Homo sapiens: one gene and its partner. The protein of the gene in region 2 purifies or fractionates together with the protein of the main gene of each other region. This does not show direct contact. Each region holds a gene or a part of one and is shown on either strand. Other genes may lie near its edges.

Region 1 (3,500 bases), on a different chromosome or scaffold from region 2:
GAACCGGGAGGCGGAGGTTGCAGTGAGCCAAGATCACGCCACTGTACTCCAGCCTGGGGAATAGAGAGCGAGACTCAGTTTAAAAAAAAAAAAATACATAAAGTGAAAATTCTTTGAATGAGGGGTTTCACAGGTTCCCAGAATGACGTGATTTTATAGCCCATCTTTCCCTTTATAGTGTGGATTCTTTGACAGAGCCAGACCTCCTCAGGAGGACATGACCGACAGGGAACAGCTGACAAATGACAAGACCCCTGAGGCATGACAAGAAAAAAAAAGAAGACCAAAGACCTCAAACACTGGTCCTGTTCAAAGAAAAAGAAAGAACATGAGGGTTAAAAATCAAAGCTTTCTGATACCTGACAGTGACCCAGGAAATGGAGGGGACCCTGGAAACATCACCTCATCTACACCGCACTTTGGAGAAATTGTCCTGGGTGCCCAGTGAGCCCTGTTGGAAAAGGAAACACCAAAGCTGGAGAAGCCATCAGCAATTGTGGAAGATTTTCTTTTGCTTTAATCGTTCTGTACTTGGCAGACACTTTGAAATGCGTATGGGAACGTAAGTTGCAGTCCAGATCAATCCAGCATAAGTTGCAGAGATGAAATGTCTGAATCACTATAGAATTTACAAGGTGAACTAAGGTGAAATGACTGATTTACTATAGAACTTAGAACTAAGACCACACCATCCAACACTACTGTATCCAATGGAACATTTGACACCTCCCTATGGAAAAGAAACATTTCTAAGGACATTATGGCTCAGGGAGACAAGCAATATGTTGTTGGTACTGTGAAAGTACTTTTGAAAGGACAAAAATAATCTTGTGAGTGAGGGTGAGAGTTTATTTATTTATTTTCCATGTCTCTAGGTTGAGAATCTGTCATCTAGAGAATTTGGAAATTAAGATTTGGTTAGCTAGTTTTCAAAATCACTCACTCAGTTTCCTCCTAAGAACCACTGTGTGCAGATAACTCATTTAGCAGAGCTTCTTCAGAATTTAGACAGTGCTAAGGAAAGGAAGATTGGCATTAGGAATCAGTTCTATTTAATACCTTGCTGCCTTCCATCTGAAATTCCTTTCACTCACATTATCCAGGGACTCACATCTGCTTAATTTAGCTTTGCAAGATGTTGCATTTATATTTCCTTGTATATCTTTCCATTGACTTAGTTAATACATGAATTTCGAGGTACTCTCTACCTTTGGAGTGTTTAAAAGTCATGGTAAAATGTCTAGAGTTCATTAATTAAAAAGCAATTTAACATTATGGGTAAACATTATTTTTAATATCTATAAGAAGCAACACTTCTTATAGATATTTAGCTTGGGATTAAATACCCGTTTTTCCTGCTATGCCTTGTACTTGTATACACAGAGAAAACATGTTGAATATAACTTAGACAAAAACATAAAATTATACAGGCATGAGCCAAACTGGGAAAACTGATTCCTAAAGATTTTTATTTAAAATTGCTTATTCCAACTTTATTACTTATTTTTACTGCTAATCTTTATAATATGTAACTTTGGAGAATAATCTTTTATTTAAGCTATTTTCCCATCATCTTGAATTTAACCATCACAAATTTTTTATGTTTAAAACTCTTGTAAATAATTCATAATCTTGTAATATTATCATTTTTGAAGTAAAATTGACCAGCCAAATTTATAGGTAGTCTGCACAATTTTGTATCCTTTTTTAATAATGAAAAATTACTATGAAGAAATACTGAACAAATTTTTATGTGCAATATTTTATAGACCTATGTATCTGAAGCATGTTTACACTGGCGTTTTTTTTTTTAATTAATTTCCTAAATGTTAAGTATGATAGAACAAGCTGACCCAAATCCTTAAGTTTACAAAGCTGTTGGAAAACTTTGTGTCCTGATTTCAACAATCACGCTTTGTTTGAAAGATGAGCCAAGCTCACAGACACTAAATTTTATGTCATGCCATAAGCTGGAGAGGAGCCATTTGGCTACAGCTGCGGAACTTCATTGAGGAGCAAATGAAAGGCACATGGACGAGCACGCTGGTGCAGTTCATGTTCTTCCTGCCTGTGAATTGAATACTGTCCTGGTAGCAGTTTCGGGTCGGTCAGGAGCTCAAGGCTGGTTTGTGTGGCTGACTACGGATGAGCACTGAAGTTGCCTCAAAGAATTAAGGGGTGTCCACACCAGCCTCTGGGGGTCTTTGGTGTTAGTCTTCCAGGTAGAGCTGGTTTTACAAGTAGGTGGCCATCTACAGGATGTGATGTGAGCGATGCCAGACAGCTCTCTCTGACCCCAGGTAATGCCCTGAATCTGGTGATCCTGGCTGATCTGTGACCAATAGAGATTAGCTCCTTGGGATTTGGGGTCCTAAAAGGTCCCTGAAAAAATGCACCCCTTGTCTTTAAGCCAACATTGGTGAAGGAACTGAGAACTCTTAGGGTTACATAAAAAAAGACCCCTGTTGAGATAGTTTATGCAGATACCTGGAAGGAACTAGAGATGCCAGGAGGAAGACTGAGACCCAGAATGAAGCAAGGCATGAGGGCTCCAAAGTGAACTGCACCATCCCAGAGTCTCAGCCAAGATGGCCCTTTCCTAGAGGGACGGGCACCTTCCACCTGCCCACAGGCACTGCTACCTATGGGAATTGCAGAAGGCCGTTGTACACACGCGCATGCACGCAGTGGCCCTCTGCCCTTTAGAATATGGAAGCAAAGTCTGGGTGCAGTGACTCACACTTGTAATCCCAACACTTTGGGAGGCCGAGACGGGCAGATCACCTGAGTTCAGGAGTTCAAGACCAGCCTGGCCAACGTGGCAAAACCCCATCTCTACTAAAAATACAAAAATTAGCTGGGCGTGGTGGCAGTCTCCTGTAATCCCAGCTACCTAGGAGGCTGAGGCAGAGAGAGAATCGCTTGAACCCAGGAGGCGGAGGTTGCAGTGAGCTGAGATCGCGCGACTGCACTCCAGCCTGGGCGACAGAGGGAAACTCTGTCTCAACAAAAAAATAAATAAAATAAAAAATAAAAAAAGAATATGGAAGCAAATGGAGAAAGGGAGGAAACTGAGGTCAGGCAAACCTTCCAGCAATCCGTTCTGCCCAGAGAACATACTGACGACAGAGAACACACTGAGCGTTATCTGCTTCTAGTTAGAGCATTGCCGATTGCCTTCATAATTCATAATGTGCTGTGCTCCTCTGAGGGTCTATCTGTATTTCTCTTCAAAGAATTCCCTTTTTAAATTCTTGCAGCTGGGTTTTAAGACACAATAATGGGGCAAATTAAGTTTTATAAACTTGGAGATTTTTATACAGTAAATAAAAAAATAATATGTACTAGTCACCCCTGAAACTGCATTCTTAGAACTCGACTCTTGTTTTATTTAAATACGTGCGTAGATATCTGTGAAGATTTTCATGTACCTATTTACCTTGTCACTAATAAAATTAAAACTGAAAGACTTGATGGCATACTTTCGGTTTATTTCACAT
Region 2 (3,852 bases):
AAAGGAAAGAAGGAAAAAAAAGGAAAGCTGTGAGCACTATGTCACTACCCCGTTCAAGCTACGCAGGCTCACCGCCACCTCCTGACCCCCCGCCACTCTTCTAAGCAAGGCCCGGGTTGCTGGTGTGAGGGCTCCAGGAGCGGCGGCAAAGTGAGTCTGCATGTCTGCAGGGCTCCCTCACGTGGGCGCGCACACAGTTCCTGGCCTGCTCCCTTTGCTTCTCAGCCCTCTGCACATTCAACACTGCCTGATTGGAGCCCGGGGCGTCTGACATCACAGCCTGGGCTCCGTGTGACCCCCATACTCTGCTCCTGGCCTCAAGAGGAACCCAGGGTGGCTAATAAGTAGCCAATAGAACTTGGTTTCTTCCTTTTTTTTTTTTTTTTTTTTTTTTTGAGATAGAGTCTCACTCTGTCACTCAGGCTGGAGTACAGTGGCACGATCTTGGCTCACTGAAACCTCCGCCTCCCAGGCTCATGCGATTCTCCTGCCTCAGCCTCCCGAGTAGCTGGGATTACAGGCATGCACCACCACCCCCAGCTAATTTTTGTATTTTTAGGAGAGACAAGGTTTCACCATGTTGGCCAGGCTGGTCTTGAACTCCTGACCTCAGGTGATCCACCTGCCTCAGACTCCTAGAGTGCTGGGATTACAGACGTGAGCCACTGTGCCCGGCCGGAACTTGGTTTCTTATTGTCTCTGCTGGGAACTGGTGCTGAGGGAGGAGGCCAAAGGTAAAATATGAGGAAGAGAAGACCCAGCTGGGTGGGCAGACCCTGAATCTCTGAGTGCTGGCGGCAGGGGCTCTAAACCCAAGAAGATGAAACGTCTGGGGGTGGAGGGGAAGCACAGGCTGTGCGTCTCTCTAAAGCTCAAGTCCACTGACTTTTTGAAACATCTTGCAAAGGCTTGGAGATTATGGTGGTGGACTCCTTGTCCCGCAGCTCTTAAAGACTGCCCAGAGAGGGCGGGAGACCACCAAGACCATGCTCTTCAGGGGGCAGAAGACAAGAGGCAGGAGGAAAGGAGGAGCTTGCTCCGAGCCAGACTGCTCTCCCTCCACAGCCACCAGTAGTTACTGCTTACCAGTAGTTACTGCTTCCTTGACAATGATGCTCCCTTCCTCTCCGGCCACTTCACTGTCTTGTGCTGGCCTCCTCTTCTCACTCAGGACTCCCTGCCTCCTCACCATCCCTGGCACCTCCATGTTGTCTAGGCCAGGGTGAGCAGACGCCTCTCTTCTCCATTTCTCACCCTAACAGTCCACACCCAGGATACAGCTCCCAAGATCTGGCAGCTTCCCCTCCACGTGTCCCCGCCATGCCACTCAGCTCCCATACACCCCTCGTCAACATCCCTGCAGGCTCTACTCTTGTGGAACCTGGAGAAAAAAAGTCCATTCTTGGTTTGCCCTTGAGATTCTTGTCATGCATTTGGATTCATGTCATGTATTTGAAGCCAACCTTCCCAAAACAACTCAAGAATAATATAAGATGAAAGACTCAAGGGCTGAAGAACATCAAATGAAAGGGTTTCAAGAACATTTTAAAAACATCTTAATATTTAGTGGATATCCTGGAAACTTTTCTTCCAAGCATATGTAGAAAAATAGCTCTGTGGGCTCTTTTAAAGTACTTGAACGCACTATCAATCACAGCCTTGTGGGTTGGCTTTCTCTTTGTAATCCTTAGGCCTTCTTGAGATACTGTAATTGCTCAATGATAGAACATGGTCCCTTGATGAATATATAATAATGTGGAAGACAGAGAGTGGATGGCAGGTTGGAGAGGAAGGAAGGTTTCAGCATCTTAGCAAGAGCTTGCTATGGCACCAGGATGGCACTGACACACCTCTGGGCCTGGGGAGGGATGCAGGTGACACCCACATCTAGCACACATTTGTGGCTGGGGAAAGAGGGATGCACCTATCAGGTTGTGACCATAGCGGGTCCCTGCTGCCAGGCAGGGGAGAATTGCTAAGTGAGGGAGGCCGCCCTGTGAGGTGTGAGGTTAAGGGCAAAGGCGGGTAGGTGCTGTCTCCAGCAGCTCTGCCCATTTCCTTCACTCCTCTCACAGCTGGGAGATGTGAGCAACACACTGCATTTTCCTGAAGGGAAGAGAGAAGTGGTTAATTCCAGGAGCCTCCTCCTCCATGAGCAATAGTCCCTTTTTCAGGTACATATGACTCTGGGGACTAGGCTGTCCCTGTGGGCAAAAAACAAATGCCCTTTTCTGAAGCATTAGGTTCTGAAATGAGAAGACTCTGACATGGCCACAGAAGGCAAGGAAAAGACAGCTTGTACCAATGGCCCCTGGCTAGTGTTCTGTGGTGTTTTGCTGTCCTCACCTCTTCTTCTCAATGTTCATAAACTTATCCTTTTGCTGTCTAAACTACTTCTCCCTCCAGGAACAATGATTTGCCAGCAGTAGTGCTGGGTGGCTCTTCTTTGTTCCTAAGGGTGCTGGTGCAGTCCTCTTTGGTGGTGATGACTTGAGGCTGAAGATACCAACCCGAGCTGATTGGTGCAGCTCAGAAGGATGTAGAAGCGCCTTCCACATGTCCCACTCCAGGGGTTCAGATAAGACTTCATGGTAGACTCTCACTAGCCCTTTCCTGATTGCTCCTGGAATCAGAAAAGTCTTTTCTCCTTCCTGAGGCTTCTCAATGCATAACACTTTTGTTCACACACCTCTGACCTGTGTCCCAGTCAGCTGTGTGCGCATCTTACCCTCCCTATAGACTGAGCTGTGTGGTGCTTCACTCCAGGGCCACATGCAGGGGGACCACAGTGGGAATGGTGCCTCTGGGTGGAGCAGTCCACAGCCTGTAGCCCTAACTCTGTGATCCCATCGCTAGCCCCCCATGATGCCCACCTGCAAATGGTCTACTGCAGGAAGGAGGGAGAGAGGTAGGAAAGAAAGAAAGAGGAAAATGAGGTCTGTCTCCAGCTTTGTGCTCAAAACATCCCAGAACATTGTTTTTGCTCTCCCCTGTTTCCCTTTAGAGCTTCAACTTTTCACTCATCACTTTCTCCCTCTGCTGCTAAGGGTAGCTGCATTGAGTCAGACCTTGAGCCACAGCTGCCAAGACATGACACTGACCTGGGGGGAAAGTGGGCCTTGAACTTGGTCTGGAACATCCTGGCCAGGATGACGAGCAGCAGCACCAGCAGCACACTGGTTGCCGTGAACGCCACAATCTTCCACGTGGTCAGGAGGGTCTCATGGGTGCTGGGCCACGTTTGCTCTGCATGAGGGAGAACAAAGCTGTACGTGAGGCTCCCAGACCATGAGAGGTGCCGAGGTTCCCCGTGGGCTCATTTGCTGGATTCATCTGGCACAAGAGATGCGTGCAAGGTGCCTCTGACCCCCAGGGCTCGGCAGAGATACCATGTGCCCCTGTAGCTCATGTAAATTGCATCAGGATCCACCCAACACTAAAAACCTGTCTCCAGCATGGGCTCTGCCAGGTTGCAGACCTGCATGCTCACATTCCAGTCCCAGGCGCAGGCCTGGCACAGGCTTAAATAATGCATCTGCCTCTTGAGAACAGAGGTGGGCATCTCTCTTGCCTGGAGAAGTTGCTCCGAAATGGACCAAGGGGTGGGGGAGTGGGAAGCTGGGCCCTTTGTGAATGTTCTGGGATATGCTGTGGGGTTGGGTAAAGCAAGAAACAGAGGGTAAAGGGGACCCCTGTTCCACAGCTCTCATGCCCTACCACCTCTAGCCATCAACTGCCTGCCAGGTCAGGGGCAGCAAGAGCAGACCTTTCCAGAAGAGACTTATCCTTTGGGCACAGGCCACCCTGTCTCTTAAATGTCTCTCTGCCTTGTCATGACCACCCTCTTAGACA

Evidence for each region.
Region 1: the proteins of SUSD4 (region 2) and ITGA8 purify together in Homo sapiens (affinity purification with mass spectrometry; 3 studies listed by BioGRID and IntAct, with this or other methods). This does not show direct contact.

What each region holds. Positions count from the first base shown.
Region 1 is NC_000010.11:15,513,923-15,517,422, reverse strand, and holds the end of ITGA8 (integrin alpha-8 isoform 1 preproprotein), read left to right. Parts: intron 1-178; coding exon 179-265; 3' UTR 266-3,469; downstream 3,470-3,500. UniProt on the Homo sapiens protein: Integrin alpha-8/beta-1 functions in the genesis of kidney and probably of other organs by regulating the recruitment of mesenchymal cells into epithelial structures.
Region 2 is NC_000001.11:223,224,493-223,228,344, forward strand, and holds part of SUSD4 (sushi domain-containing protein 4 isoform a precursor), read right to left. Parts: intron 3,247-3,852; coding exon 3,102-3,246; intron 1-3,101. UniProt on the Homo sapiens protein: Acts as a complement inhibitor by disrupting the formation of the classical C3 convertase.